Homo sapiens: one gene and its partner. The protein of the gene in region 1 purifies or fractionates together with the protein of each later gene. This does not show direct contact. Each region holds a gene or a part of one and is shown on either strand. Other genes may lie near its edges.

Region 1 (3,656 bases):
GATCGCTTGAGCCTAGCAGGCGGGAGGTTGCAGCGAGCCAAGATCACCCCACTCCAGCCTTATCAACAGAGCCAGTCTCAAAGAAAAAATTAACTGTCTCGGGTACTGTGCCATGGCTGCATGAGGACTGATAAAATACCCGACTCTGGGCAGGGGTACCAAAGAGTGAGTGGAGACTCTCTCTCACCACTCACTTCCTGGCAGCTACTTTTCTGGGTGCACAGGCAGGTCCACTGCACATGGTAACAGCCTGCCGACTCTGGAAACACAGTTCAGGATCCCAGTCCTAGTGCACTGGTCAGACTTTCAAATAAGCGAATAACGTTGTGGGCAGCCTGTTTTGTTCGCTTTGCTGGCTTTACAGGGTACTTCCTGTTGGCCTGAAATACAATGTTGGTAAAGACAGTTTTTCTGTGGCCTTTCTCTGTTGTGGAGGATTTGTTGTTTTTAAATTACGATTCAGGACTGAACTGTATCATAGAATGTCCTTCTTTCAGAATGCTTTGTGCCAAAACAAGAAACCTCAGAATTACATGTTAATAACAACAAACAAAACAAAAAAGACCAATAGGCAGAAGGCAAGAAACAAAAACTATTCTTTGTAGATGGTGTCATTTTACCAAAAGTTAACAGAACTAAACCAACAAACTATTGAAAATTAACAACAGTGAGATGACTATACAAATATATAATTAAAAATAACTTTCCCATGTAAAAGCAATAATCAACTATAAAAATATAATGGAAAAAACTACAATAACAAAATTGTGTAAAACAAGTGAAGAAAATTAGAAAAATTTTCACAGGAATATAATACTCTAATAAATAGAAAGGCATGTTTCTGGATGGGAAACATACACTATAATTTTTCCCAAATAGCTTATAGGATTTCTTTATTCCAATCAAAACACCAATGTATAACTTTTGGAAACCTAAAGCAAGCAAAACTGAAGAATCCCTAAATCGCACCACACGATCAGTCCGTAAAGGCACCGCTGGCCTTGCTTCTAGGCAGAGGACAGGAAGGTATGGATATCAAGAGGCTGAAGACAATTAATACCCACTACAATGAAGACACCTGGAAACCTGTCTCTTGAGAGGCAATGTGAGCTAACCACTGGAGACGTAATTTCTAATCATACAACACTTTGCCTTGTGAGGTAGTGACCACCCCATTGCCAAAGGTCTGATGACAGCATAGAGGGGACCTAAGCATATGGTAAGGTTATTGATGAGACATGGATCCAAGCCAACTTTTTCCTGCCTCCAGGTTGACCCTTCCTCTCTGGGTCTTGGGGTTTCCTTCGTAGCACATGAGATCTGGGCTCAACAGAGGGACAAGATTCTGAAGAGCTTTTCTAGTGGTGGGGCTGGATGGCCCTGCCTGAGTAATCCAAACTTCTTTTAGCAAGGGAGAAGCATGAGACGGCTGCTGGAGAGATCAACAGCAGAACAAAATACAATAAGAACAGTAGACACCTAAATTATGTTGTGAAAAGGAATCTGTAAAAGTCAGTTTTATCACAAATTGTAAATATTATTGAAATTGATTGCAAATTTAGATCACATACAAATGAGAGTCTGACATTCAACTGTTTTCCTATATTCCAAAGTAAACAATTCCTTTCAACACTCAAGACTTAAACAGGTATTCTTAGAGGGTTATATGAATTGCTATCAGAAGCTGTTGGCTAACAAGCCAGTAATTTGGTTCTTTCACCAGAACACAGTTCCAGATAAGCATCTTTGCACTATTTCTCAAGTATGAATCCCCATGTGGGGGGAAAACGGATATACTTTCAATAGACACAAGTCACTCTTTGCCTTCCAAGTAAGCAGACTCCAGATTCATCTTCAAAGTGTTGGGAAAGGGGATCTGTGACCTGTACATTATCATATAACTTCAAAAAGGAAAGCTCCTTAGTCCAAAAAGCCTAGATGCTGAGGTATAGCCCTTGAAATGTTTTCTTCCCTGTGAATTTTCTAGCAATTTGAGGTTTTAGCTAAGATGGGCATTTATCCAATTTTGGCAATAATGAGATTTTTACACATTTATACCTTTTTAGGCAGCTTGGGAATTCAGAACTACTTATGAAAGCTCTCAGGTTGAGGCAGCACCATCAGACCCAGAAAGGGTTCCCAGTATTACTTCTGCTTTCGGGTCTTACAGGCTGAGTGGGTTTTCTCATGCCGGGTACAGTTTGACAGCCGACCAAATCTTCTCCCACATTTTTTGCAACCATATGGTCTCTCAGCCTCATGACTCTGCAGATGAAGCACAAACTCCTCATTCTTTGGGAAGGTTTTCCCACATTCTGGACACTTAAATATCTTCTCCCTTATATGGATTCCTTCATGACGACTCCGATGAGAATTCTGACGGAAGTTTTTTCCACACTGAGAACAGGAATAAGGTTTCTCTCCTGTATGAATTCGCTCATGTTTATTGAGGTTTGTTTTATGATTGAAGCTTTTCCCACAGTGATTACAGTCATAGGGTTTTTCTCCAGTGTGGGTCCTCTGGTGGGAAATGAGGTAAGAACTTTCATTAAACTGTTTCCCACACAGTGGACAAGTGTACCATCTCCTTGTCCTCCGATTTCGAGTAAGGGCAATAATACTGATGTCTACATATTTTGAGAGTTCCTCTAGAGGAGTATCATTCTCAATGGTAACTAACAGATTTCTCATTTTCCTTTTTTGTGGAATGGATGTATTTAGTCGTTCCTTTTCCTGGTTATCGGGAGGCTGCTGAGAGACCAAGGAAGAATCCATTTCATCATCATCTGAAGACTTTTCTCTATAATCTTCATTTTCTACAGGTTCCCTCTCAGGATCTTCACCTTCAGGATTACTGCCATTGACTGCTGAAACAAAGAGAGAATTTAACAACTTCTGAGAGATATCACAACACCAGGCAGGAAAAAACAAGTCAGGTTTCTTATGCCACAGCCACCTTGAACGTCAATCTGGGGAGTGGCGGATACTGCCGTCGCACTCCTTTTCCATACTTATTGAGGGTGGGATACATAACTGATAAATCTTTCCATCTACCACAATGCAAGCACACTTTAAAGAAATAAAATGAGTGGGATTTCACTGAAAGACTTCAAATGTTTGTTCTCTTCATAGGTGTTAATTACTCGACAAGTTCATATTCACCTTATACTCTGTAGAGCACTCAGGTAAGGACTAGGGATGAAGACTATACATCTATACAGGGAACCACTCATCATCTTGAAGGAGTCTGGTAACTGAATAGTAAGACGAACCACTTGTAGGTTTTCACTATATTAAATATTATCACACTATTATAGCACTAAATAATATCATAATGTCTTACAATGAGAAAATTGAAACAATTCCAATAAGCAAAATTAAAGAGGGCACAGCATATTCATACAAAAGTTTATTATTGGCCAGGCGTGGTGGCTCACACCTGTAATCCCAGCACTTTGGGAGGTCAAGGCGAGCAGATCACCCAAGGCTGGGAGTTCAAGACCAGCCTGACCATCGTGGAGAAACCCTGTCTCTACTAAAAATACAAAATAAGCTGGGCATGGTGGCACATGCCTGTAATCTCAGCTACTAGGGAGGCTGAGGCAGGAGAATCACTTGAAACCGGAAGGCAGAGGTTGCAGTGAGCCGAGATCGCG
Region 2 (3,822 bases), on another chromosome or scaffold:
CACTGTGTGCCATGTGCTGTGAGGCCTCAATGGCTATTTGTCTAAGTGAATGAAAAGAATACAGTTTTCAGCACAAGGCATCAAAGCTAAGGGTCCGTTGGGTTCCATAGACACCTCCAACCACCTTTAAGCTGTGAGTCCTGGCTTCCTCACCCTGGACTAAAATAAACTTCCACCTTGTTTCTTATTCACTGTGGCTTTGTTTGTTTCTCCTGTATTTTAGGGACCAATGAAGCAGCCATCATTGAAATCTTATCGGGCAGGACATCAGATGAGAGGCAACAAATCAAGCAAAAGTACAAGGCAACGTACGGCAAGGTGATTCCAGGGGTGGTCAGCAAGCTTGCACCCAGCCATGGCCTCAGCCGTCTCGGCTTCCTCATGTCCCCAGGCCACGCAGAATATCTTTATAGCTTTATTGAGTCAGCCCAGGAGGAAAAGTGAAATAACCACTTAAAAGCATTAATGGAGTTCAGAAAAACTGAAATTGCTTTGTTAACTCAATAGCCTGTAAAATCAATACTCTTAAACTCATTTCTTAAATTGACTTCATTTTTCTATGAAGACCCTAGTCTTTTTTTCACTTAATTGGGACTAACTGTACATATGTAGCTAGATCAGTAATTTGAAAATCAGTTTCCACAAGTGGGTCTTTATACAGGAATTTTTCATAAGCGATTGTTACAGAAAACTACCAAAAAAACTCTCCATTTTATTAAGCTATCAACACCTATTTTTCTTTACATTTTCTTTCTTTTCTTTCATTCTTTTTATTGTTGAAAATAATTTTATAGAGAGAAGTCTTCAAGTATGCATTAGGCTTTCTTATTTCTTTATTAATATGTAATGAACACAACTTAAACTTTTCTTAATGTCATTAGAATTATCATTATGCAAAATGAATATCAATTATTATGCTGTATTCTCATTTATATTTTTCAAACTTTTACCATTTCAATCACTGTAGGTATAAATAGATATATAGAAAGATGAAGATGGGTTTTCCTATTTATTTGATACTGAGCAGGTAACAATTGCTTCAGGCCTTGGTCTTTTCATGGATAGAAAGAAGATGATAACTTAGCTCCCTTCTCAGGTTGCTGGGAGAATCAGTCAGGATAATGCCAGCATGTACCAATACAGGAAAAAGCTATGATAGCTATGATTGTTTCCATTTTACAAAATCACACACCTAAAAAAAAAAAAGAGAACCAGGACTCACATCCAAGTCTCACATCCAAGTCTCCTGACTTCAAGAACAGTATCCATTCCTGGAGGACCCAGTGCCATAAATAGAGCTATTTGCTTGTACACTAAATGGCCCAAATGGCTGTGCTTTTGTGCTTTTTCTGCTTCTCTCCTTACTATTAGGTGCGTCAATGTAATTTTTGATGAAAATAAGTGCATCTTCAGTTCAACTGCATTTAATTGAATGCATGAAGCTGAATGTGTGTGTGGTTTTTTTTGTTGTTGTTGTTTTGTTTTGTTTTGAGACGGAGTCTCACTCTGTTGCCCAGGCTGGAGTGTAGTGGCATAATCTTGGCTCACTGTAACCTCTGCCTCCCGGGTTCAAGCGATTCTCCTGCCTCAGCCTCCTGAGTAGCTGGGATTACAGGCACGCGCCACCATGCCCAGCTAATTTTTGTGTTTTTAGTAAAATTTTTGTATTTTAATTTTGGTCAGGCTAGTCTCAAACTCCTGACTTCGTGATCTGCCCACATCAGCCCAAAGTGCCAGGATTACAGGTGTGAGCCACCGTGCCTGGCCTGAAGCTGAATTTTTATCCCTGTCAACATCCCTAACTCCAGTAGCCTCCCAAGACACATTCACCCTACCAATATGAAAAGTCAGTCCAGGCAAGGTGGCTCACACCTGTAATCCCAACACTTTGGGAGGCCAAGGCAGGAGGATCACTTGAGCCCAGGAGTTTGAGACCAGTTGAGACCTTCATCTCTACCAAAAATAAAAAATTAGCTGGGCATGGTGGTGTGTGCCTGTAGTCCCTGCTACTCAGGAGGCTGAGGCTGGAGGGTTGCTTAAGCCCAAGAAGTTGAGGCCTCAGTGAGCCGTAGTTGCACCACTGCACTCCAGCCTGGGTGACAGAGAGAGACCCTGTGGAAAGGAAAGAAAGAAAAGAAAAGAAAAAGAGAGAAAGGGAGGTGGAGAGGAAGGGAGAGAAGGGAAGGAAGGAAAGAAAAAGAAAGAACAAAAGAATGAAAGAGAGAGAGAAAGAAAGAGAGGAAGAAGGAAAGAAAGAAAGAAAAATCGGATACAATGCTTCTTAATCTTTAGTCTTTAGTCTAAAGAAGAGTAAATGGATTCAAACTGAAAGCCTAGGGGCCCTGTTAAAACTTAAATGGGCATGTTCTGGCACAAAACTTTGTGATACTTCATTTGCCAATCATTTGCTTACTTTCTGGTTCTCAGCTGTGTTTCAGAGAACTGAGACTGCCAAACAGATAATCTAGAATCCCAACAACGCAAAGCTAGAAGATGTTAGGTATGATCCAATCTCAGCCCCGTGTCAGTTGACCTCCAAAGAGAATAACCACCCCGTGGTAACAGAGTCAGCAGGAAAACCAGGAGTAGAGCTGAGCTATCCCGAGCCTTCTACTCTGTCCAGTCAGAATGTAAGCACACAAGGATTTGTTTTTATGCCTGTGGCTTGTAAGAGTGGGAAGCTGGGATTTTTCTTCTCTGCAGCTTATATAATGCCCATCTGGCCTGAAAATATATTTCCAATTTTTAGATGACTCCACACCATAGAGTACTGACCACAGACCTGCCTTCACAAGATGCAGTGTTGGCTGGAGCAGCCACTGTGGGGCGGAGGCATAATATAACAGCCCCCTTGTAGGACTGCAGATCCCAGGGCTTTGGACAAAAATATTCCGGGTTTTTCTCCCAGGCCAAGAGCTCAGAGCTTCATTTGAAAAATAGTTGATGTGCCTCCTCTTAGAAAATTTTTTTCAGCATGGGAGATTAATGATAAGCATTTATTGACCGTTTAAAATATGTCAGGCAGTAATGCTCAGTATTGACAAGGATTGTCACATTTAATTCTCCCAAAAACCCTGTGAGGTCAGTCTAGCACTGTCTCCATTTTCTAGAGCTGAAAACTGACAGTTGGTGAGATTAAGTACATTTCCAAGGTCACAAAGGTACTGTGGCTGTGTTCTTTGCCACCATGCCACACTGCTGGGGAGCTGCCCACCCTATGCTATAGTTTGTGTCCTTGAAATGCCAGCTTGTCTATGGGCCTCCAATCTGAGCCATCCCAGGCTGTCGCTCTATGTGAAGGTCTTTGGTTTAAGTTAGGGCATTAACTACTCTAGGTAGGCTGATGCCCATCCTTGACCATTTCTCCTGTTAAACCACATTGTCAGAGGGAGACAGGGAGAAGGTAGTTAGTTTTCTTGTGAAAAGAGGGTGCTCAAAGAAAAGAGGAAGACAGGTGCTTGTCAGAATAGATGGCAGGCTGGGGTCATGGTGGCTCACGCCTATAATCCCAGCACTTTGAGAGGCTGAGGTGGAGGATCGCTTGAGCCTAGGAGTTTGAGATTAGCCTGGACAACATGGCAAAACCCCATCTCTACACAAAAAAATTTAAAAATTAGCCGAGCATGGCAGTGTGTACCTGTAGTCTCAGCTACTTGGGAGGCTGAGATGGGAGGATCATCTGAGCCCAGGAGGTCGAGGCTGCAGTGAGCCATGATTGCACCACTGCACTCCAGCCTGGGTGACAAAGTCACCCTGTCTCAAACAAAGAAAAAAACAGATGCCAGTAAGAATTCCATGTACTTCCCCTTCTACATACCTGCA

Evidence for each region.
Region 2: the proteins of ZNF200 (region 1) and ANXA13 purify together in Homo sapiens (affinity purification with mass spectrometry; one large-scale study listed by BioGRID and IntAct). This does not show direct contact.

What each region holds. Positions count from the first base shown.
Region 1 is NC_000016.10:3,221,747-3,225,402, forward strand, and holds the end of ZNF200 (zinc finger protein 200), read right to left. Parts: intron 2,868-3,656; coding exon 2,146-2,867; 3' UTR 579-2,145; downstream 1-578. UniProt on the Homo sapiens protein: Localizes protein arginine N-methyltransferase PRMT3 to the nucleus.
Region 2 is NC_000008.11:123,699,138-123,702,959, reverse strand, and holds part of ANXA13 (annexin A13), read left to right. Parts: intron 1-223; coding exon 224-318; intron 319-3,822.